3 separate regions of the Homo sapiens genome follow, and all the other regions are linked to region 2. Evidence: fine-mapped expression QTL. A gene starts in region 2. Each other region holds a variant in brackets. All regions are shown on one strand. Distances are between the middles of the regions.

Evidence for each region. PIP is the estimated chance that this variant, and not a neighbour inherited with it, causes the effect.
Region 1: its variant is fine-mapped to the expression of SPON2 in whole blood (TOPMed, PIP above 0.99).
Region 3: its variant is fine-mapped to the expression of SPON2 in nasal epithelium (TOPMed, PIP above 0.99).

The regions. Positions count from the first base shown.
Region 1 is chr4:1,200,162-1,208,334 of GRCh38, forward strand. LOC124900164 reads right to left here and starts at 1,096. Exons shown (of 1, transcript XM_047416479.1): 1 at 465-1,096. The coding sequence starts at 1,096. The coding sequence ends at 482. LOC100130872 (a long non-coding RNA gene) reads right to left here. Exons shown (of 4, transcript NR_024569.1): 2 at 4,821-4,955; 3 at 1,108-1,301. It also overlaps a transcript of LOC124900647 not described here and a transcript of SPON2 not described here. RefSeq lists enhancers at 1-31, 527-746, 1,987-2,186. The variant G/A (reference allele first, on the strand shown) is at 3,543.
Region 2 is chr4:1,168,617-1,176,789 of GRCh38, forward strand. It overlaps SPON2 (spondin 2), which reads right to left and starts at 3,967. Exons shown (of 6, transcript NM_012445.4): 1 at 3,928-3,967; 2 at 3,236-3,458; 3 at 2,647-2,870; 4 at 2,383-2,574; 5 at 1,786-1,960. The coding sequence starts at 3,455. All of the region lies in intron 1 of LOC124900647 (nascent polypeptide-associated complex subunit alpha, muscle-specific form-like), which reads left to right. RefSeq lists enhancers at 3,147-3,862, 3,863-4,580.
Region 3 is chr4:1,146,702-1,154,874 of GRCh38, forward strand. The region is part of intron 1 of LOC124900647 (nascent polypeptide-associated complex subunit alpha, muscle-specific form-like); the gene reads left to right. It overlaps LOC124900837 (hornerin-like), which reads left to right. Exons shown (of 2, transcript XM_047416541.1): 2 at 1-6,999. The coding sequence ends at 1,459. Among named protein-coding and RNA genes, the nearest start is that of SPON2, 22 kb to the right of the region's middle. RefSeq lists enhancers at 3,057-3,557, 3,558-4,058. The variant G/A (reference allele first, on the strand shown) is at 4,213.

The DNA of each region.
Region 1 (8,173 bases), 32 kb after region 2:
GATGGTTGTGTCCGCCCGGTGGGGCTGCTGTGAGTTAAGGGGTGAGAAACGCTTCCCTGTCCACTGTCTCTGACACGTTCTTCCTGGGTCACCCCTCACTCAACACCCCCAGAGACCAGGCAGGCTCCACGGACAGTTGAGAAGGCGTCCAGCCTGCAGAACGGAGTCCAGGACCCAGAGAAGCTTCAGGGGTGAGCAGGGTGGGTCGGGGCTGGGGAGTAAATGACAGAGGGAGCAAGTGGAGGGAGGAAGGGGCTTCAGGACAGGAGGTGCAGGCTAAGCGAGGATGGCTGAGCCGCCCTGGTGTCAGAGCAGGGGAGGCTCAGCGGGGGCGGGGGCGGGCTCAGCCTCTGCGCTTCTGCCTCCAGGATGTTATGGATCTGGCAGGGAACGTGTAAACCATGAGCTCACCCCACGGGAACGTGGTTTCCTCTGGCTGCCCCCACAACAGCTGTTCCCCATCAGCACCGGCCCCATCTCCCTAGCAGGAAGCTGGGCAGCCACTGCAGGCCAGGTGTGGACGACCCTCACAACTCTCCCATCTGCGTGGACATCGCTGGACGGGGTGGTAAGGGGGAGGGGAGCAGCGAGGAGAGGGTGGGTGCAGCCCCCCACCCCTCTGGTCCCTGCCTTTGCTGTGAGCAAGTGGAGAAAGCCCAGCTCCTGGAGGTGGGGCCAAGTCTGCAGTGTCCTCAATGCCACCAACCAGGCCTGACCCTGACCACTGACTGAGCACCACGTGGTGCCTCTGCCCTGGATGTGGGCACCCCCGTGCCCTCCTGGCTCTGTTGCAGCAGACCTGTACGCCAGGGCCTTCTAGACGGTTCTGGCCCCTCCCGTGTGGACTGTTCCCACCATACCTGGTCTGGGCTGAGGCTTCCTGGCCCTTCCCCCTCCCACCCTGACGAGGTTGGCCTGGGGCGCCCATGGATGCACCCTGCCCACATGGCCCTCTGCGGTCACCCACAGCCAGCGGGACCCAGATTCCCTGCAGGCCAAATGCAGGTGCCCCAGTTCCTCCAGCCCCTCCCCCCGCAGTATGTGGGCAGTGACAAAGAGGGGGTGGGTCTGGCCCTGTGCCATGCTGGGGCCCCATGCCCGCCCTACCTGCCCTGAGTGTCCCGGCCGTGAGTCCCCAGCCCACTGGCTTCAGGCACTTCCAAGCCCCTTGCTCGCTTCCCTGAAGAGGCTGTGGGTTTCTCCAGGCCAGGCCTGTGGTCAGCAATGCAGGCAGGTGTTTGTGATCAGGGCATCTGTGCTATCAGGAACAGCCCCCAAACCACGCAGGGAGGGAGGAGGCCCTGAGAGAGAAGGTGCCGTTACATGCACGTGACCACAGAGAAGGCTGCCTTCACCCCGTCTGCACCCCGGGAGTGCCTGCCACACTGAGGTCCGCGCGCAGTTTCTGGTTTTCTGATGCTGACTTTTTTTTTTTTTTGGAGACAGAGTCTTGCTCTGTCACCCAGGCTATAGTGCAGTGGCGTGATCTCGGCTCACTGCAAGCTCCGCCTCCTGGGTTCACGCCATCCTCCTGCCTCAGCCTCCTGAGTAGCTGGGATTACAGGCGCCGGTTGCCACGCCCGGCTAATTTTTTTGTATTTTTAGTAGAGACGGGGTTTCACTGTGTTAGTCAGGATGGTCTCGATCTCCTGACCTCGTGATCCAGCCACCTCAGCCTCCCAAAGTGCTGGGATTACAGGCGTGAGCCACCTCGCCCAGCCGGTGCTGCCTTCTTGAGCCGTGGCCTCCACAGTGCTTCACCTGGCTCCCGCAAAACAGCTTCATTGAGATGAAATTCACATGCTCACAAGTCACTCTTTACAGTGTACAATTCAGTGGTTTTTAGCATGTTCACGAAGTTGTGCAACCATCCCCACTCATCTCACTCCGGAACACGTTCATCATCCGCAGAAGACGTCCTGTGCCTGTTAGCAACCGCTCCCCGCCACGGTTTGAGTGAGGCCACAACAGAACATCAGACAGCAGTTTATCAACAGAGACTTCCTGCCTCCCCGTCTGGAGGCCAAGGTTGGGTTCTCCTCTTCCACGATGGCCCTTGCACGTCGCATCCTCACCGGCTGGAGGGTGGGTCTGCCCCACAAGCCCTTTTCATGGTGGCTTTAGTCACAAGGGCTCTGCCTCGTGAGTGGATCAAACACCTCCCATCAGTCCCCACCTCCCGGCACTCCACGGGGTCTAAGTTTCAGCCTGAGCTTTAGAGGACGGAAACGTTCCAACCACGGCACTGCACGCCAGGCCCAGTACTCACCGCTCTCACATACAAAATCATATGAGTCAGCATTCTCTAGAGGGACAGGACTCATAGGATACATGAACAGGGGATGATCTTGGACTCCCTGCCCACCTTCCAGACACATGGGGGCAGGGCTGGGCCCCCACGGCTTCTGTGGGCTCAGCCCACTCAGTGCTCATGGGTCGGAGTCTCCTGCCTGCCGCTCTCCCAGGCTGTGCTTGCTCGCTGGTGGCCCTGCAGTCCTGGGGTCTCGGAGGCAGCCCCCACCTCAGCTCCGGTGGGCATAGCCTCGGTGGGGACTCCGAGGCAGCTCCAACCCCACGATGAGCCTCTGCCTGGGCCCCAAGGCTGTCAGCAACATGCTTTGAAATCTGGGTGCAGGCCACCATCGCCTGCAGTGTCAGCGCCCCGTGGATGCCGTCAAGGCCCCCCGCATGTGCCTTTGGGAGCGATGGTTGGAGCTGCGCCTGCACCTGCCTGAGCCATGGCTGGGGCGGCCAAGGAGGGCTGGGCCAGGATCGGGGGAGACCCAGGCAGGCAGTGAGCTCTGCGGTCCCAAAGGTGCCCCAGGGTCTCATCCCTTGCCATGATTCTGTCCTCAGGGCCCTTATAAAAGGGCTAGAAGGAACTAGCTTGGCTGTTTTTCCTCCGAATTCTGCCATGTGAGGCTGGATACGCCATTGGAGCTGCCCTCAGCAGACCCCAGCCTGCCGGCACCTGGATCTTGGACTCCCCAGCTTGAGAACTACAGGAAATAAATTTCTGTTGCTTATAAATTACTCAGTCTGAGGTGTTTTGTTACAGCAGCGGGGATGGACTAAGACCCTTCCCATTTTCCCCCAGCTGTGCCCTCGCCCCCAGCCCCGGGCAGCTGGGAGTCTACTCTGTGTCACCGTGGACCTGCCCATTCCAGACATTTGACATAAATGGTCTCATGTGATATGTGGCCGTCTGCGTCTGACCTCCTTCACTTGGCAAATGTTTGCGAGGTTCATCCACTTTGGAGCATGGGCCAGAGCTTCATTCCTTTTTACGGGTGAAGAATAGTGTGGGGCCAGGCCACAATGTGCCCATCTGTCCCTCAGCAGATGGACATGTAGGCTGTGCCCACCTTTGGGCTATTGTGAATAATGCTACCAGGAACATTTGTGGATAAGCTTTTGTGTGGATAAGCTTTTGTTTCTGATTCTCGGGGACGTGTACCCAGGAGTGGGATTGCTGGGTCACATGGAATTCGGCTTCACACTTTGAAGAACAGAACAGCCGCATGTGAGGTTCCCACGTCTCC[G/A]CCCTGACACCTATGATGCTTTCGGTTCCAGCCATCCCAGTGGGTGTGAGGTGTGGTCTCGTGTGGTTTTTATTTGCATTTCCCTGGTGGCTAATGGTGTTAAGCAGCTTGTCATGAGCTTGTTGGCTGGTCGCATATATTATTTGGAAAAAACATCTATTCAAATTCTTTTGCCTTTTTTTTTTGAGTTAGAGTCTCTCTCTGTCACCCAGGCTGGAGTGCAGTGGCGCGATCTCAGCTCACTGCAACCTCTGCCTCCCAGGTTCAAGCAATTCTCTTGCCTCTGCCTCCTGAGTAGCTGGGATTACAGGCGTGCACCACCACGTGGTGGCTAATTGTTGTATTTTTAGTAGAGATGTGGTTTCACCACGTTGGCCAGGCTGGTCTCAAACTCCTGACCTCAAATGGTCCCCCCAGCTTGGCCTCCCAAAGTGCTGGGATTACAGGCGTGAGCCACTGCGCCCGGCCTCTCCCAGTTTGCCCATTTTTTAACTAGGTTGTTTATCTTTGTATTGCTGAGCTGTGAGAGTTCTTTAGCACACTGGTTTTTCACTACCTTACCCTGGAGCCGATACACATCCTTTCTGCTCAGTCATTAGCCAGAAATGCAGAGAAATGCTACTGTGTGACCCCATGACCTCAGCCTGATGTGCAGGGGTCCCCAGAATATTAGACGGGCACTGACTGTCTGCAGGATACAGACCCGGGAGGGTGGCTTTGCACTGCTGATCTGAACACAGCCTCTCACTGATTCAAAACGTCCTTTTGGCGTGTCTGTAATGCCTGCGTGTTCACCGTTCGCATTGTTACTGTGAGCGACCCACGCACCAGCTCCACACGGGGCTCCCTAGGTGCAGCCTCCGGTGTGTGTTAAAACCTGGTGGCCACGGTTCCCTTGTTCATCTTTTGTTCCAGAATTTCCTTAGTTTTCTTACTTATTTTTCCACGTTAACTTCACAATCAATCTACCTGATTCCAGGGTTCTCCGGTGTTTTAATTGGCCCCGCTGTGGCAGCCGGCCAGCACGAGGGACGGCACCTCGTGACGCCCAGGACAGACCGGGCTTGTTGCTGGTCTGTGGTCCTCAGTCAGGCCTCAGACCCTCTATAACAGGTATAGATGTGCCCGCCGTTTGCTCCTAGAAATTTACAATTTTTGTTGCTGTTGGGAATGGTCCCTTTTCTTTCTTCATTGTCTCTCCTAACTGGAAGTGCTTGAATTTGAAAGATGCTGATTCCTGACTCTGAATTTTGTGCACAGCCACCCTCCGAAACTCACCTCTGCCTTCTAATCAGTTTTCCGGGTCTATGAGGAGTCGCAGCAGGCTGTGCTCGGGTGCAGAGCCTCTCTCCAGCCGTGTGCATGCAGCTCTTCCCGGGGCTCTTGGCTGTGAGGCCTGGCCTGTCCCTGTGGCTAAGGCGGAAGACCCAGCTGTCCCCTCCCTGTGCCCTCGCCACGCCCTCCCCGTAACGCTGACCAGACTTTGCACAGGGCAGGGCCCTGGGGGCACATGGACAGGAACTGGCTGTGGGTGGAGACAGCACCCGGCTGAGGTCCTGGGGAAGAGGCCATGCCCGGAGCTCCTGGACACAGGAGGTGGCGCTGGCTGAGGCCCGATGCCTGAACTGGGCATGGGGGGAGGCACCTTTGAGCTGGGGCCTCCTCGGAGCAGCTGCACCCAGGGGCAAACCCTGCCCCTCGGTTTCCATGTCCACATCTTTACTAGAACTGCAGCTGGCATCCGTGGAGCTGTGGGCTTTGTCCAGGGAGAGCCGTGCCCAGCACCTGGGGGACCCTGCAGAGGTGCTAAGGTTCAGGGTTAAAAACGAGGATCCTGGCCTCCCGCAATCCTGTCCCCAGAGGCCCCATCGGAGCCGCCTGGCCTTCCCTGCCAGCCCAAGCATCCGAGGCTTTTGCCAGCAGTGCCTACGGCAGCCTTGGGAAGGGTGGGGGCCCAGGGAGGGGCATCATTTGGTGTTGATCAGGGGAGATGCTGGCGTCACCACGGCCCCAGGGCCTCCAGGCCCGCCCAGGCTCCCTCACTCAGATGTCCCACCCACAAACACCTGACCAGGCCCCACCAGGGGCCCCTCTCACCCCTGAAGCTGTGCAGGCCCTCGGCTGACAAACTGGGACCCTCAGCTTGGATGGGCAGAAAGGTCCAGGAGGGGCCTCTGAGACCTCCTCGCTCGGGCCTGGGGGTTGGGGCCGCAGGAAGCCATGCTCCGCCCGATGCCCACCCCTAGCTCCCCTGGCTGCCTCCTGGCCTCTGTCTCCCTCCAGGCCCCCAACCCTGACCAGGGAGTGGGGGGTTGGGGGCGGAGCTTTTGGGAGGAGGCCACGCCCAGCATTGGGTTTGCATTTCCAGGGAGGGCTTCTCCTGCCTGGTCTCCTCCCCTGGTACTGGGCTGGGGGCTGTCAGGGTGACCCTGCCCTACCCAAGGCTGACCCGGGGCCATGAACAGGAGGATGCCCCCCTCCCTGCTCCTCATGTGTGCCCCCACGGGAGCCAGCGGGCAGCAGCTGGACCCCAGCAGCCTCTCAGGGCACCCAGGACTGGAGAGGGCCCTGCCAAGGGTCTGCGGGTGCCACTCACCCACCCGGCTGCAGCCCCCAGCTCCCCTGGGCTGACCGTGGGCCTAGGCCGAGCTGAAGGGGCTGGCGGTTGTCAGCCCTTGGTCTGGCCCCACCACTGCTCTGCCAGGGCAGGGGGAGGCCGGCAGCCCAGGTTGTGGGGCCAGAGGGCCACGCTGTGACAGACGAGAAGAGGGAGTGACCTGGAGGGCCCGGGGCAGGGACCAACAGCAAATGCCTCCCTAGGTGGTCTCTCCAGGACAGATGTGTCCCCTGTGGGAGGGCTGGGGCGCCCAGCAAAAGCAGCAGCTCCTCAGGGAACGGGGACCCAGCGGGCTGAGTGGGGCTCTTGGAATAGAAGGAGCCTCCCCAGGCTCAGCTCTGCAGGCGGAGAGGGGAGGCAGGGCCTGAGGCTCATGGTAGGGAAGCGGCCTTGCCCTGTGAGGTCTCCCTCAGGGGGCAGAAGAGCCGGGACCCCGCCAGCAGCAGAGAACAAACCCCAGTCTAAGGCGAACCCCAGGTGTGGGGTAGGTGTAAAAGCAGATGGCTTTGACCACGAGTGCACAGGTGAGGGGCAGACAGGTGTGAGCAGGTGTGAGCAGGTGAGGGGATAGGTGGGAGACACATGGAGGGTGGGAGGAGATAGGGACAGGAGAAGAGGCAGTGGGGGCAGGTGTGGGGCAGGTGTGGGGCAATTGGAGGTGGGTGGGGGTGGATGGTGTCATTTGGGAGTGGATGGGGTTAGGTGTGAGCAGGTGCAGGGCGGGTGGGGAGCACGGGGAGGAGGCTGGAGTTGGTGTGGGCAGGTGCAGGGCAGTGCCCGGGAGGCACTGTCAGGTGAATGTGGGGCTGGGCAGAGGCTGACCTGGGACGCCAGGGCTGCTGCTGAGAACCTGCTGTCTGGGCAGGCAGCCGGGCCCCGCCAGGTGTGACTGCCCACTGCACAGAGGGGGTGGAGGCCGGAGGCCTAGACGCCTGTAGGGGCTGGGAGGGATGTGGGTGAGTCCGGCTGCTCGACACCCTCCGTCCCACCAGTGTCCACAGCCCTGGCCCCGGCTGGCCCCGGCGTCCCCACAGTGGGCACCCCCAGCTGGAGCCAGCTTGCATCAGGGACCTGGATAGTGAGTGGCGAGCCCTCCACAGTGGGATCCTACAGACACTGCTACCACTGACCAACGGGGTCAGTAGCTGGTTTAAAAAAGAAAGGGCAGCAGAGAGGCCACCCAGAAGAGCCGCTGTTTCCATGTGCCGCGCTTACACATGCTCCAGAGGGTCCGGCTGCCTAACCATGCGCCGCGCTTACACATGCTCCAGAGGGTCCGGCTGCCTAACCATGCGCCGCGCTTACACATGCTCCAGAGGGTCCGGCTGCCTAACCATGCGCCGCGCTTACACATGCTCCAGAGGGTCCGGCTGCCTAACCATGCGCCGCGCTTACAGATGCACCTAACCTTATATTGTTCAAGTCTCATGTCCTGCCTATCAGGGATGTTTTCGGACCCTACATGGGAAGCCCTTGGCCCGTTTGAAGGTCGGGTCAGGGGGCGGCTGAGGCTGTCCAGGGCAGTGGTCAAGGGCTTGGGGAAGCGGAGGTAGACTCACCAGGTGCTGGTGCTCAGAGGGGCCGGGGAACACCCACGCCCTGGCCGGGCCACCCCGTCCCTCCTGGTGCTTGATGCCAAGGGGAGCGGGTCAGGCCGCGAGAGGCCCAGGGCCAGCCTGGGGAGCAGAGCTGCTCAGCGGGGCAGAGGTCCTCCTCCGGGCGCCGGGCTCAGGGCCCAGTGGCCAGATGGTTTTCTTTGCTGCAGGGAGTGCCGGCTGCGGGGGTAGGCCTGGGAGGGCTCATGCAGCTGCTCTTGGGTTTCTCTGCTGTTGTTTTTTGCTGGAAAATCAATCCTGCAAGTCCAGCTGGGCTCTGGCTGAGAGCAGCTAGGGGTGGGGATGGTGGGTGCTTCCCGGCCCCCACGGGGCAAGTTCTGGGCCCACAGTGGGGAGAGAAGGCAGGATGGGGTGCAGGGCCAGCCTGGGGTGGGGCCCCGAAGAGCCTGGCTCCCTGC
Region 2 (8,173 bases):
CCACCTGGGGAGCACACAGAGCTGCTGGCAGATCCCAGCACCCCCCAGCTTCCTGACTGAAACCGAGGTGGTGGGAGCGCCCCTGCCCTGGCTGCAATGAGGAGTCAGTGAGCACTGGCAGTGCCTGTTCTACAGCGAGGGCCCCACCACAAGCCTCTCCAATGCTGCAGAGCCCTGTCAGGAGGCCTGGGGACAGGCATCCAGCGTGTGAGCAGGAAGCCAGAGCTGAGCCAGGCTGGCTTGGCGTGGACCTGGCGGAGCCTCCTGGGTGCCAGCCGCCACATGCCCATCCCAGCCTCTGCCCTCGGGAAGCCAGAAGTCACAGGAGAGACCCTTGTGGGCGGTGGTCTGTGCTCCGTCCCCACTGCCCACTCTGGTCCCTCGGCTGGCACAGCTGGCTCTGTCCGTCTCCCACCCTTCTCTCCATGTCCTGCCTCCTGCTCAGAGCTCATAGCACAGTCTCTCCCCACCCTTCCCCTGCAATACTGCTTCTGCTTGGCCACAGCTGACTTTATCCCTCTCCTAGCCCAGGGCACTGGCCATGTGCTCCCCTGCCCACTGTGGCCCAGTGCCCCCAAATGTGGGGCAAACCGCACCTCTCTGGACCCTCTGCCCACGAGGGGCTCTTCCCGCCAGACCAGTTGCACACCACGAACAGTGCTGGCACGTCTGCCTGTTGGGTAAGTGGCTCGGGGACATCTGCTTGGAATGGGGCATCCGCGTGGACAAATGAGTGAGGAGCCCAAGCCTGCACTGGGCAGGGGCAGCACCGAGGCTGGCACAGGGAGGCCCAGTTCATCCCAAATGAGGAGGGACCCAGGACTGGGCACAGTCTCTGTCTGGGGAGTGGTTCCCGCCAGCCAGGCGGCCTCCTGTCTGACCTGACCTGGCCCTTGCTTCCAGGGACGGCTGACAGTAAGCTTGTAATTACTGCTGCTCCTCAAGACGACATCTGTCCCTACCACATGGCTTGGGGGGCAGGTGTGGGGCGGCCCCGTACCTGCCTCAACTCCAGCCAGCAACATGGAGGGTGGAGGACGACGGGGCCCATGGCCAGGTTGGTGGGCTCCAGTTCCTCCTCGGGAAAGTCTGAAGTCCGCTGTTGTCTGGGGCCTACACTGACTGTCCCACACCCATATCAGGTGAGACCCAGAGACCCAGAGCCAACAGGCCCTGACCCACGACCCAGCAATGCGCTCCAGACCACAGGCGCTCCGTGAGGCCAGTGGCTGCCACCCAGCTGAGTAGGGAGGGAACTGCCACTCGGCCCCAGCGTTCCCAGCCTGCCCTGTCCAGCAGGTGCCTGGAAGAGCTAGGAGAATGCTCATCAGCACCTGCCCCGCCCCAGGCCAAGGCGCCTGTGAGCAGAGCCCCGAGCTGTGTGGTGGCTGGGTCCCGAGACCCCCACAGGTGCCCTGCAGCATAGCTGTCACCCGGTGGCCACACAGGGCCATCCTAGCAAGCTTCCTTGTCAGCTGTGACACACAGGTCACCTGTGGGTGCGTGTCTGACAGGACAGAGTCTCTCAGGTACTGTCTGGAGCCTCCTTTCATTCTTTCCTCTGGGCTGTGGCCCTGTAAGATGCTTTCAACTGCAAATAATGTGCAAGAGTCACATCTTCAGTGTGTGAATCAACAGAATCCTAAATCTTCTAGGCACCATCTTGCAGTACGCACTACGAATCCCTACTTGGAATTTCTCAGAGCCTTAGGTTCGGGTTTGGTGGTCGCCCTGTGGCAGGGTTCGGGGCTGCTGTGTGTCCCATGTGACCTGTATGTCCGTTACCTGAGGCGCTGTCTACAATCTCATTGTCCCTGCTGGGCAGGACTGGGGCGGGAGGGATGAAGGCCCTGGGGCTCTGTCGCAGCCGCACCAGTGTCACCCTGGCGATGGGAGGCAGGGCCTTCAGCCGCGGGTAGTAGAAGGAGTTGGCCGGGTGGCTGGGAGAGGAGGACGTTATCTGGGGAGGAAGAAGAGGAGGTTGGCCTGGGGTCCGAGAAGCCCACCTTCTGGTATGCGTATGGCCTCACTGGGGCCACTGCCCAGCGTCCAGCGTGCCCTCTGCACCACTGTTGGGGACAGGGTCCCATGTACTCCTCTCAGCCATCCCACGGAACACGGGCTGGAAACCGAGGCCAGGAAGGGGCAGCCTCCTCGGGACGCGCGTCCCGCTGTCCTCCCTGCGGTGCTGTGACCCCGGGTTGGGAGAGTATGGGAGGGCTGCACCCCCTTGCTCACTGCTGGCGCTAGAAGCAGAGCCTCTTCCACACAAAAGCCGCAAGCGGCTGTCCTGGGCTGGGAGGCGAGGGTGCAGCCAGGCCCCAGCCCCGTCCCCACCGCGGGGGCCATAGCGGCCCTTGCGCACGCGGGGTGCCCACTCACCTCGGTCACCGTGTCCTGCGGGATGGTGGCGAAGTTGGGGGAGGAGAAGGTGAAGCCGCTGTCCGTCCCGGCGTCGTAGGGGTACAGGTCCAGCGCCGCCTGTTCCCGCCAACGGTCCCCGTCGCACAGGTCCAGGCTGTCCACGCCCACGAACCAGTCGGGGCTGGGCACGATGCGCACCACAAACGAGACCTGCGGCGACAGCGGCTCAGCGCGCCTGGCCCCGGCCCCCCGGACCCCGCCCCCGGCCGGCCCCGCGCTCACCAGCGAGTGCCTGCGCTGCACCTCCAGCTCCGCCGACGTCTGCCCGGTGCCGCTGGGGACGGCGGGCGCCGAAAACACCGCGTGCACGCTCTGCAGCGCCTCCCCCGCCGCCTCGATCTCCTTCATCAGCGCCCAGGCCTCGCCGCGCTCCGCAAAGTCGCGCAGCCCGTTACTGACGTACTGGTTCTTCCTCCACATGCTGTAGTCGGAGCTATGCGCGGCCCCTGCAGGACCACCCGGCCGCGCCGCGGACCATGGTCAGACACTGCGGTCGGGCTTGGATTCCAGGGGGCGCCCCAGGAAATCCCTCCCCGCCGCCCGCAGGGAACCATGGCCCCCAGTCACGTCGGACCGTGACACCCTGTGGCTGCCCCTGCCGCGACCCACCTGCGCCCTCCCCGTGAGCGCCCCCTGCCCCCACCGCATCCCCGGAACCGCACACCGCAGGCGCTCGGCAAACATTCTGGTGTTAGAGTCTCCCGACGTCAGCACGCCCCAGACTGGGAAGCGCCGCCGTGCAGCTGTGCGGGGGGCTCCGGCGCCGCAGCCCTCCTGGTGGAGCAGGAGGCGAGGAGGGGGCTGTACTTACCCAGCAGCGAAGACCACTGCGCAGGGGGGCGGAACAGGGGGTACTGCTTGGGGAAGGCCGTCTGGCTCCACTTGCCCGTGAAGGTGATGCTGTATTTGGCCAGGGCTCTGGCGGAACAGATGGACTCTCCCCCAAGAGGCTGGCCGGCGGCGCCGAGAGTGGCCAGGAGGAGAGCGCAGAGGGCCTTGCCCAGGGCGGCGGCCGGGCTGGGGTTTTCCATCACCTGGGAGCACAGAGGGGAGCAGCCGCGCGCTGGCACCGTCGTGGCAGCCTCGGGGTGGAAAGCCGAGAGGGCTGCGGCACTTTGGGCTCTGAGGACGGCCCCGAGCACCCGCGACCCCCTCCCTGCTCCGCAAAGCTCTCCTGCGGTGCTTCCGAGACCCCCATCAGCGGAATGGACGGCGCGGGGTTAGATCGCCCGTGCGCCTGCGAGCGACCAGGGGTAACGGGCAGGTTTTCAGTCCGAGTCCCTGCAGCTTGCCGGGCCGGTCTGGGTGCGGCCTCCGGGATGCCTTCGCCGTCGCAGGGACCCGGGGCCTTGGCCGACTGGCTGCCCCCGGGACTAGACCCTTAAAGCTCGGTCGCAGCCAGTCCTGGGGGTCCCTCTGGAGGTGCCACAAGGTTCTGGGCCGCGGGGAAAGTGCAGGAGGCCCGGGCCCTCTCTGGGTGTCCCGGGGGCACGCAGTACTCACCCGGCAGGAGCAGCGGGAGCGCGGCCGGCAGCGGTCGGGTCCCAGCCAGAGCCCGGAGCTCCTATTTAAGCCCGAGGCCGGCGCCCCGGGCCGGCCAATGAGGCTCCAGTTCCTCCTGTCTTCGATGCTGCACGGCCTGGCCTCCAGCGAGAGGCAGATAGGACGTGGGAGAAAGGAGGAGAAGGGGCTGCGGGGGCGGCGGGGGCTGCCGCTTTCCCAACTCGCCCTGCCCAGCGACCTTCCCCGGGTCGGATCACCCTCTTCCCCTGGCAGTGCTGCCGCACCCCTTTCTTTGTCTGTCTGTCCTATCCCTCCCCTCCCCTCCCTGTCCCCTCCCTTCCCCTCCCCTCCCCTCCTCCCCTCCCCTCCTCCCCTCCCCTCCTCCCCTCCCCCCTGTCCTCCTCCCTCTCCCCGTTTCTCTCCCGTTCCAACAAGCGCCTTCCTGGTGCCTCCCTAGGTGCCACTGAGGGGAGTTCTTTGCCCCAAGCCTTTCGGGAAAGCTCAGGGCGTGGGGGCAGAGGGGCTCTTGTTTTCACCTTCTCGAAATTAGAGCCAGCGTGCTACACCTTCTTGCGCAGGGTGTGACCTGGAGAGCCCTGTGCGTGGCCTGACTTCAGTCTACATGCTGGAAGTGGCTGGGGAAGCTCCTGGCTCCCGGCGCAGGCATCCCTGGCCTTTGGGGCCCTGGCTTTAAGTCTCTTTCCTGGCATGGCCTAAAGCTGCACAGAACAGCCTAGCGGTCTGCACTGTGGCCAGAGGGCATTTGCAAGCCATCCCTCCTGGAGGGAGGTCAGAGTGGGCTGAGGGTCTGGGGTGGAACGCGCAGGGAGTCAGGAAGAGCCACAGAAAGGGGGCCCCCCTCCCCAGGACCCCGCACAGGGCTGGGGCTGCAGGCCGGCGGTGTGTGCGGTGCAGAGCCCTCCCAGGGGCTCTAGGCTTCCCTGCCTTTGGGATGAAGCTAACAGATGCTGAAGTTGATCCTGCTCCATGTCAGGAAAATATTTATAGGTCCCCAGTCATGGGATCTGGAAACAGAGCGGAGGAAGGAGCTCGGGAATGGTCTTGCTCAATCCTTCCCGGCCTCTGCTCATCGGAATCACCCAGAGGGCTTTTAAGCTTAGACAAAACACTCTGATGTTTGGAACCCTGTTAATGTTTCACAGATTCAAAAAGAGAGAAAAAATAAATAGAAGCAACTAGGACAGAATGCAAACAGAAACAAATGATCTAACCTGTATTTTAAGCGAAAACCACAGATCAGCCACTCAATGCAGTATTTAGACTCCAGGCCCCCAGGCCAAAGACAAATTTCCACCTCCGTGCTTCTCAAATGTTTTTATCTGAGGACTCCTTCATACTCTTAAAGGTCACTGAGGGCCAGGCGCAGTGGCTCATGCCTGTAATCCCAGCACTTTGGGAGGCCGAGGCGGGAGGATCACTTGAGCCCAGAGTTTGATACCAGCCTTGGCAACACAGGGAGACCTCATCTCTACAAAACATACAAAAATTAGCTGGGTGTGGTGGAGTGCGCCTGTGGTCTCAACTAGTCAGGAGACTGTGTCTGTGGTCCCGGCTACTCAGGAGACTGAGGTGGGAGGATCACCTGAGCCAGGGGAGGTCAAGCCTGCAGTGAACTGTGTGTGCCACTGCCCTCCAGCCTGGGCGACAGAGTGAGACTCATGCCTGTAATCCCAGCACTTTGGGAGGCCAGGGCGGGCGGATCACTTGAGGTCAGGAACTCGAGACCAGCCTGGCCAACATGGTGAAGCCCCATCTGTACTAAAAATACAAAAACTAGCTGGATGTGGTGGTGCACGCCAGTAATCCCAGCCACTCAGAAGGCTGAGGCAGGAGAATTTCTTGAACCCAGGGGGCAGGGGTTGTAGTGAGCCAAGATCGCGCCACTGCAGTCCAGCCTGGGCAACAGAGCGAGACTCCATCTCAAAAAAAAAAAAAAAACAAAAAAACAAAAAACAAAAACAAAAAAAACTAATTGAGGACACTGAAGAACTTTTTTGTTTGTATGGGTTATACCTATGGATACTTATCATTTTCTAAATCATAACAGAAATGTTCAGAATACTTGCCAATTCACTTAAAAATAAGAAAATATTGCTATTACACATTAACATAAATAGCATAATGTTTTATGAAAAGCAATCATACTTTTAAAAATGAAAAACCCGCCTGAGAAAAGTGGCGTGGTTCTACGTTGGTGCGAATCTTTGTATTGTCCGGCTTAGTGGAAGCTGGATTCCCATATCGGCTCCAGCACTTCATCTGCTGAGATGTGCTGTTGGTTGAAGTCTATGAAGAAAATCCAGCCTTGGCTGCGTATGTTACCAGCCTTGTCAGGTGCCTGCTCTGGCCTGCAGCCCTCGAAAGCCGCCGTGTGCCCATCAGAGCATGGGAGCAAAAGGTGCCCTCATGCAATGGGCTTCGATCTCATCATCTGCCTGGAAGGATCTCAGGCCCTCCACGAGTCCCCAGAGCAGGACTGGCAGCCGCTGCTCAGAGGCTGGACTCGAATCCACAGGCCTTTTTCCCAGAGCGGCATGGGGCGGCTGTACTGCAGCTACTCTGCATCCCTGGACAATCCTCGCTTTCTGGACAGCTTCCTCGGCTGAAAGGAGCACAGGCTCCATGGCAAAGCTACTGGCTCTGGGTCTGAGGAGAGGAAGGAGGCGCCGGGTCTGGGGCATGTTCCTGTGTAGGAAGCCAGGGTGCCGCTCCAGAGACTCGCTGAGGCACAGTCCCCATCTCAGTCCAGCTCTGGCCGTGGCAGCGGCTTCCAGGCTCACCCAGTCTCACAGGAGGCCAAGGAGGCTGCGGAACAGCCCAGGGGCAGCAGGAGCTGTTCTCCCAGCCCGGCCCTCATGCCGTCTCAGTGAGCTCTGCGACCTGGGGCCCCCACTTGGCGGTGGGCCCAGGCTGGGGGGTCTCCAGCTAGGATGTAGGGCGGTGGTGGGCCCAGGCTGGGGGGTCTCCAGCTAGGATGTGGGTGGTGGTGGGCCCAGGCTGTGTGGGGGGAGTCTCCAGCTAAGATATAGGGTGGTGGTGGGCCCTGGCCTGGGTGGGGGTTCTCCAGCTAGGATGTGGGTGGTAGTAGGCCCAGGCCTCGGGGGCTTCAGCTAGGATGTGGGTGGTGGTAGGCCCAGGCCTGGGGATCTCCAGCTAGGATGTAGGGTAGTGGTGGGCCCAGGCCTCGGGGGCTTCAGCTAGGATGTAGGGCAGTGGTGGGCCTAGGCCTGGGGGTCTCTAGCTAGGATGTGGGGTGGTGGTAGACCGAGGCCTTGGAGGTGCTCCAGGCAGGGCCACAGCTGATTTGTCTGGGAAGGGAGGGGGCTTGTTTGGAGGGCTGGAGTAGACAGCAGCCAGGAGGAACTTCCTTTGGTAGTGGGAGGCCCCTCCAAAAGCACGCCTGCGAAGGCCCTAGGGCACCAGGGGACATGGGAGCATTCTTTGCTGTGCTCAGAGAGGGGGACATGGGAGAACTGGGGCCAGGTGGGCTTAATTTTCTGGATCCTGTGGCCCCTTGGGTTGGATCGGGCTGGGGTCTCAGGCAGAGCTGTTTCTGCACTGAGGCAGGGACTGCAGGCCAGTGACGGAGTGATCTTGTGTGACTCCATGCTCTCAGAGTCTTGCTGGAAACCCCCCTGGCTCTCAGACCCTCTTCTGTGAACCAGAAGTCTCTATCCTGCCTTCTGCTGAGGGTCACAGGATAAGTATCCATAGGTGTAACTCACACACCAGCACTTTGCAAGGTGTCCCCCCACCCACACAGAAGAGTTCCTCTGTGCCCGCAGGCAGGAGCAGCCCCCCACATACACACACAGTACATTCATTCATTCACTCACACAGTACTTTCATTCATCCACCCATTCAAATAGTACATTCATTCATTCACTCACTCACACAGTACATTCATTCATCCATTCACACAGTACATTCATGCAATCATCCACACAGTACATTGATTCACACAGTACATTCATTCACTAATTCACTCACACAGTACATTCATTCAAGCATCCATTCACACAGTACATTCAATCATCCATTCACACAGTACATTCATGCAGTCATCCACACAGTACATTCATTCACTAATTCACTCACACAGTACATTCATTCAATCATCCATTCACACAGTACATTCATGCAATCATCCACACAGTACATTGATTCACACAGTACATTCATGCACTAATTCACTCACACAGTACATTCATTCAATCATCCATTC
Region 3 (8,173 bases), 22 kb before region 2:
ATATCATGGAAATGGTACCGATGGGGAGAGTTTAGAACGCCATGGATATCATGGAAATGGCACCGACGGGGAGAGCTTAGGACACTGTGGATATCATGGAAATGGCACCGACAGCGAGAGTTTAGAATGCTGTGGATATCATGGAAATGGCACCGATGGGGAGAGCTTAGGACGCCGTGGATATCATGGAAATGGCACCGACGGGGAGAGCTTAGAATGCCATGGATATCATGGAAATGGCACCGATGGGGAGAGTTTAGAACGCCGTGGATATTATGGAAATGGCACCGATGGGGAGAGTTTAGAACGCCGTGGATATCATGGAAATGTCACCGACGGGGAGAGCTTAGAACGCCATGGATATCATGGAAATGGCACCGACGGGGAGAGTTTAGAACGCCGTGGATATCATGGAAATGGCACCGACAGGGAGAGTTTAGAACGCCGTGGATATCATGGAAATGGCACCCACAGCGAGAGTTTAGAACACCATGGATATCATGGAAATGGCACTGACAGGGAGAGTTTAGAACGCCATGGATATCATGGAAATGGCACCGACAGGGAGAGCTTAGAACGTCGTGGATATCATGGAAATGGCACCAACAGGGAGAGTTTAGAACACCGTGGATATCATGGAAATGGCACCCACAGCGAGAGTTTAGAACACCGTGGATATCATGGAAATGGCACCCACAGCGAGAGTTTAGAACACCATGGATATCATGGAAATGGCACCGACAGGGAGAGCTTAGAACGTCGTGGATATCATGGAAATGGCACCAACAGGGAGAGTTTAGAACACCGTGGATATCATGGAAATGGCACCCACAGCGAGAGTTTAGAACACCGTGGATATCATGGAAATGGCACTGACAGCGAGAGTTTAGAACACCGTGGATATCATGGAAATGGCACTGACAGCGAGAGTTTAGAACACCGTGGATATCATGGAAATGGCACCAACAGGGAGAGTTTAGAACACTGTGGATATCATGGAAATGGCACCCACAGCGAGAGTTTAGAACACCGTGGATATCATGGAAATGGCACTGACAGCGAGAGTTTAGAACACCGTGGATATCATGGAAATGGCACTGACAGCGAGAGTTTAGAACGCTGTGGATATCATGGAAATGGCACCCACAGCGAGAGTTTAGAACACCGTGGATATCATGGAAATGGCACCGACGGGGAGAGTTTAGAACGCCGTGGATATCATGGAAATGGCACCAATGGGGAGAGTTTAGAACACCATGGATATCGTGGAAATGGCACTGATGGGGAGAGTTTAGAACACCGTGGATATCATGGAAATGGCACCCACAGCGAGAGTTTAGAACACCATGGATATCATGGAAATGGCACTGACAGGGAGAGTTTAGAACACCGTGGATATCATGGAAATGGATTTCAGAAAGGCTTTTGTATGTTAGTTTTCAGCCAAGTCAAGAAGTGAGATGCATCCACATCTGGCTGCATGCTTGTAATTAGAATCTGACTTTCAAATTCGTCTCAATGTGTGTGGAAGTCTTAGAACCACAGTTCATCCTGCAGTTTGTTCAGTTCTGATTAAAAGCACTCACTCCACATGTGCCAGGCACTGCAATAGGCTTTGGGGATACAAAGGTTAATAGAAGAGTTCATGCCCTCAAAGAGCTCATTCAGTCCTAATACACCTTCAAACCGGAAGTGTCCCTGCTGACACAGAGCAAAATGACCACTTTTATGAGCGACATGAAACTGGGAAGGGGACCCAGATATCCTCCTGTCCCCATCCCCGTCCCCCAGCACAGGGCCTGTGTCCCAGCAGCCTGCTGGTAGACCAAAGCAGCCAAGGTAAAAGGCCAATCCCGGCTCTCCCCCCAGCCAGCTTCGCACCACTCAATCTGTGGGAAATTGAGGGCATCATATTTGGACCATGACTTACTTGTGGTTGTTTGTTTAATTGGTTTTGATGAGTTTGGTTTGCTTTTCTCTCCTTGTACGATTTGCCCATTTTCTGTCCTCGGTTTTTCCATGTCTGAGTAATAGTCTTCTTTTGTCTTATGCCCATCCCCCGTTTTTGCCAGAGCCTTCCACCCTCCTGCCTCAGTCTCCACAGCCTGCTCCCTCGGCCTCCTCTGGGCTGGCTGTCCTGGGTCAGCGGTGAGTTCTTCTTTCTTGGGTTACATGCTTTGCGGCTTCTTTGCTGAATGCAGTCAGGGGCAGGGGCAGGGGCAGGCCCAGGGAGCTCGCCTGTCTTGCCCTACAGAGTCTTCAGCTCCCAGCTCTTAGCTTGACCCAAACGAGATACTTTCACGCATGTGTGTTACAAACTGGAGCAAAACCGCGCACTTGGCAACTAAGGAGAGTTAGCCTGCAAAGAGAAATCTGGGATGGGTGGAATCTGTGACTTCAGTTATGACGGACTTTCAGGTGAAAAAATGTGTATTTATTTTGAGTGGACCCAGATGGCAGAACAAGGATGATTGGATACAGTTGTGGAGATGTAGTTCCTGCACTATGGACAGCTGTGGGCTGTGCTCCCCGGCAAGGAAAAGGCGAGCAGCCACCCCAGAGCGCCAGTGCAGAGGCTCCCTTGGCACTAGGGTGTGGGGCAGGTGTGGGCTCCTCCACCACAGGGCAGTGGGTGAGGAGCACCAGACCCACAGGATGGCTTCCAGGACCAGTCTGTAGCTCTTGGACTTTAAGGGCATACTGTTCTCTTTTAAAGAAAAGTTAAAACTGTGGCCTGATGCGCCTTTTTTTTTTTTTTTTTTTTTTGAGATGGAGTCTCATTCTGTCACCCAGGCTGGAGTGCAGTGACGCGATCTCGGCTCACTACAACCTCTGCCTCCTGGGTTCAAGTGATTCTTCTGCTTCAGCCTCCCAAGTAGCCAGGACTGCAGGTGTCCACCACTACTCCTGGCTAATTTTTTTTCTTCTTTGTATTTTTAGTAGAGACGGGGTTTTACCATGTTGGCCAGGCTGGTCTTGAACCCCTGACCTCAAGTGATCACATGCCTCGGCCTCCCAAAGTGCTGGGATTACAGGTGTGAACCACCATGCCTGGCCCTGATGCACTTTCAAAGTTTTCCATAACAGTGAGTTTTAAGTAGCCAAGCTCTAAATCTAAATAATTGCCCAAGGGTGATGGTTAAGGAGACTGCTGAGTGGGAAGAACAGAGAGTAGGGAGGCTTGGGAAGACCAGGTGAGGAGGAGCAGTCAGTCAGAGAAGAGCCTTGGCAGGAACTGAGGAGGGAGGCGTGGACAGCAGCATCCGTGGGAAGGAGGACTCCAGAGGCTCCTGACTTGGGTGAGGGAGCCAGCCACAGTGGGCCCTGGTCTTCCAGCCAGATGGGACCGCTTGCCAGAGGATCCTTGGGGTGTCACATTTCTAGCTGGAAACTTCTGTGGCTGGTGGCACCCTTGCCCGAGTTTTGCTTGGGCCCACTGGGCTTGTTCTGCCCACTCAGCCTGGCATGCTGCACTCAACTCACGCTACTGGCCTGGATCCCACACCTGCCAAGAGCGAGTCAGGCACAGAGCAGTGAGGGGTGTGTGAGTGAGCATGGGGTCCAGCCACTGTGCAGTCAGGCACACCCGCAGCTGCTGCAAGGTGGGCAGCTCCAGTGCTGGCATGGGCGCCCACTCTCTGCAAGGCTGCAGCTGGACCAGGTGCACTGCAAGCAGCTTCCACAGCTGGCACTGGGGAATGCAGTATGCCAGGAACCACAGGGCCCCAAAGAGGGAGTCCAACTCAGAAGGGGCAGGGCTCCTGCTTGTTCCTGGCCTGGGGGGCTCCCAAGTCTAGGCTCCCTGAAGGGCTGCAGCTCTTCTCTCCTTCTCTTCCCCCATAGCATGGCAAGCAAGGGGCATGTCTCAGCCCTGTTTGTGTTATACCAGCTCTTTTAGCCTTGCCATTTGACGGGTCCCAAGTTCTTGTCCTGTGACCAGGAAGAATGAGGTCTGCAGACAAGTGGAGGGTGAGCAAGAGGAAGACGAGCTTTATTGAGCGATACAACGGCTCAGAGGAGACCCGCAGGGGCAGCTCCTTTCCACAGCCAGGGTGTCACAACGCGTGTTCAGCTCCTAGCACAGAGGAGACCGTAGAGTGGGAAGCTCCTCTTGGCAGGCAGGCCATCCTGTCATCTCTGAGGCTCTCAGCAGAGAGGAGGCCCTGGAGTGGGTTGCTCCTGTCTGCAGACGGGCCATCCCTTTGTGCCTGC[G/A]GCTCTCAGCAGAGAGGAGGCCCTGGAGTGGGCTGTTGCTCTCTGCAGGCAGGTCCTCTTGTTGTCTCCCCAGCTCTCAGCAGAGAGGAGGCCATGGAATGGGTAGCTCCTCTCTGCATCTGGTTGCCCTGATGTCTGCTCAGCTCTGGTTGAGCCTAGGGCTTTTATGGGCCTTAGAGGGGAGGAAGTGCACTGTGATTGGTACATTGGCAGTCATGGGTAAAGGCACCAGAAGTTCCCACTCTGGTCTGCAGGACTGGCAGCCCAGTCCCCAGCCTTCAGGACCTCCCTGGCCTGAAGGTGGGGGCCTCACCAGGGACCTGCCCTCTTCCACCCAGGAACTTGTCTGCGTCCTGCTGCTATTCATGGTGTCCAGGCTATAGGTGCCAAGGGGTGCCTGCAGGCCAGTGCCAAGCTACCCTCAGCCCACCCTTGGCTTCCCTCCTATTCTCGGTGCTTAAAGTCTGGAGGGTGCTGAGGCAGCAGGGGGCTGGTGTATTAGCACTGCCCTGAGCGTGTGCACACCTGGCCAGGCTGCAACAGTGCCCAGGCTCGCCCTGACTTTACTCTGAGATCAAAGTGGACACTGACAGCAGGGAGAAGCCAGGCAGCAGAAGCAGGCACTTCCAAACCTGCGAAGGCCGGGGATGGGGCTTCCTGGGCCCCCTAGAGTGCAGAGATGCCTGGGTCTGCAGCCATGGTTTGGGTGGCTGTAGCTGCGCCTAGGAGAGGGGCTTCTCTCTGCTCCCGGCTTCCAGGAGCACAGGGATGCCTGGGTCTGCAGCCATGACTTGGGCAGCTGCATCTGTGCCCAGAGGGGTGGGGCTCCTGCCTGCTCCATGGAGCAGAAGGCCTGGATCTGCAGCTGGGACTTGGGTGGGGCTTCTGCCTGCTCTGTGGAGCAGGAGGTCTGGGTCTACAGCTGTGACTTCAGTGGCTGCAGCTGTGCCCAGGAGAGTGGGGCACCCATCTGCTCCCGGCCCGAGAGCACAGGGATGCCTAAGTCTGCAGAGAGCTACCACCCAACTCGGAAGGGGCAGGGCTCCTGCTTGTCCGCAGCTCCTGCCAGTTCCATGGAGCATGCAGCCCTGGCTGTGCCTCCCTGCTGCAGCTGGCATGATGGCACCAGCCACTTTAGATGGACCGTGGTGTCATCACTGAGACCCTGTCTTGACACAGCTGTCAGGACACTCTCTAGCCACACTTGCCTTCCTGCTGCCAGTGCCGCCGTGGCTCAGGTGGCTGCAGTTCCTTGAGATGTCCCAGTGGGTCCTGGGTGAGCCCATCCAGCTGATGGGCCATGAGGCAACAGGCAAGTGGACAGGCCAGCACTGTCCCCCTTCCTCTTCTTCTGCCCCTTCAACTGCAGGCTGGAAAATTCATATGTTACCAGGAAAACAGCCGGCTACCCAGGGCTATTTACCTCAGGGGCCAAGCTTCCCGTGGGATGAGATCGTTGGGCTCAGAGAACGTGTTGAGCAAACACAGTACTTTCTGTGAGCTGGGTTAGGTTGTAAAAGCCTTACAAAGAGTAACCTAATCATCAGCACAACCAACAGAAATAGATGTTTGTTTTTTTAATCATCATTGCATTTCACAAATTAAACAGAGGGTAAGTCACTTGCCCAGTGGCACACAGCTCTCAGGTGACAGACTGGGATTTGGATCCAGGCAGGCTTGTACAGACTCCAGAGTCCCAAATATGGCTTCATCCACAGTGTCGGAGCAGCAGCGAGGGCTCTAAGACCACCCAGCTCTCTTCCTGGCTATTTTTTCCATGCTACTCATCCCAAAACTTGATCTCACATTGCTCTGTTTCTTTCTCTGCCTCCATGCTTGATGCATTTACTTAATCTTTCGCAGGATGGGTCATTACTTTTTGCAATAGCACACTCAAAGGTAATGACCAAGATAAATTGAAAAGAGGATTCAACAGTATTCATTGTAAGATTGAATGGGATATAAAATACGTAATCAGCACTTGTGAGGAATATCACTAGATTCTCTTCTTCCTACTCCCCCTCCTTTTTTTTTTTTTTTTTTTTTTGCATTAAAACCCGGGAATTTGATGTTGATTGTGGCCTAAATGTTAAGCATATTCTGGATTTTCTACACCGTTCTGACACCACAGGTACTTGTTTCTTTCTCAGAAGGCAGGTGAAGCTCAGCTGTGTGGGGCTGTGCTTGGTGGCAGTGTGGGAAACGTGTGGAACTCACCATGGTGTTAGCAGCTTTTACTAGCCGTTTGCTTGGAAAACAGTCTCCGATCTGCACTTGCACACCCACCACGATGCCTTCTCCCCATGGCTCTGTGGACACCAGGAGGTCAGGGCACAGAGGACGTGCGACTTGTGCTCCTGTCTTGCTGCACAGTCTAAAGACCTCACGTACGTTTTGAATGTTCAACCACTATTAGAGTGAGAAATGGCATCCAAGATGCTTTTACTGAGGAACATTGACAACTGGAAAACAAATCAAGCTTGGATTCCAGGGAACACTGTCCAGATTTCCTGTTTTATGAATTTTACCATTCACTCTTAAGGCTGTTAGGTTTGAATAACTTGATAAATGATCAAGAGAAAACCATGCAGCATTATGTTCACTGCCAAGTAATATGGACGTAGAGGATGGCAGAATTCTGTAAAACCACTTCTGGAGTTCAACATTTAACCGAGCACATTTTACTTACCTGTTACCAGTGTGTCGCTTGGAATGTCTTCTATTAGGCATTTCTCCTCACGTTCCCCTGCGTGGAAATAAAAGGCAGTTGAAAATGGAAAACCAAAACATAAAAGAAATGTTAACATTTGCATTTCTGTTGCTTGAGCCACTTCTGATAATACTTTCTTTGAAATGGATCCGTTGCAAGTGCCACTGGTTAGTGGGTGTTTGTATTTCACTGGCTAATTTTGTAAAATTGATTTTTGTGAGAAGTGACACGTGGCGCTGACACTGGGCAGATACTTGCAGCAAATCCGACGAACAAGATAAAAAGGCGTAAGAATTTGGGGCCTTTCCAAGCTGATGATGCAGAGTTCTTTCTGATCCGCCACTGAAAAGATGTTGAAGCATTCTGATGGAGTGAAGAAGCTTCTAATGAAGATGGTGTCATGGAGTATGAGAAATGAGAGATGGGGAGGCAGGTGTAGGCAGGAGGGGAGGGAGGCTGGGTGTGGGGGTGAGGCTAGGCATGTCGAGGGGAGGCTGGGTGCGGTGGGGAGGCTAGGTGTGGGGGGGTGTGGCTGGGTGTAAGGGGTGAGTTTGGGTGTCTGGGGGGAGTCTGGGTATGTTGGGGGAGGCTGGGTGTGTGAGAGGAGTCTGGGTGTGTGAAGGGAGTCTGGGTGGGTGGGGGAGAGCTGGGTGTGTGGGAGGGAGTTTGGGTGTGTTGGGGGAGGCCGGGTGCCGGGGGAAGGCTGGGTTGGGAGGAGTCTGGGTGCGGGGGAGGTGGGTGTGGACCTGTGGGTGGGAGGAAGGGAACCTGGCTAAAGTGGAACCACCTGGACTAGGAAGAGCGCGTGCCCTGAAGAGACTAAGTCTGTTTCCTCATTTAAAAAAGGAGTGAAAATCACTTAGTGATCCATTAGGTCTTTTCAGCTGCGACATCCGGTGTTTTCTCTTTAAACCTTTTATTTAAAAATGTCTGTAGACTAACAAAAAGTTACAAAAATAGTGCAGAGGTCCTGTGACCCATTCGTCAACGCCCCCAGTGCAACGTCTTATGTGACTAATCACTGCAGGACTGCATCACGGGGACCGGGCATTTGACAGTGGCAGAGAACAGCTAGCTCGGCTGCAAAGCTCACGTGCTCACATTTTTGCACACGCTTGTTTTTTGTATGTGAGTGCACCATCATGAGAATGCTTCAGCGAGCCCTTTTGAGCACTCTGGAAAGAAGTGGGAAGATGGAAAGAATGCATCGTGTGGTTTGGAGCAAGTGCTGGCAGCCGAGGGCCTGGGCTG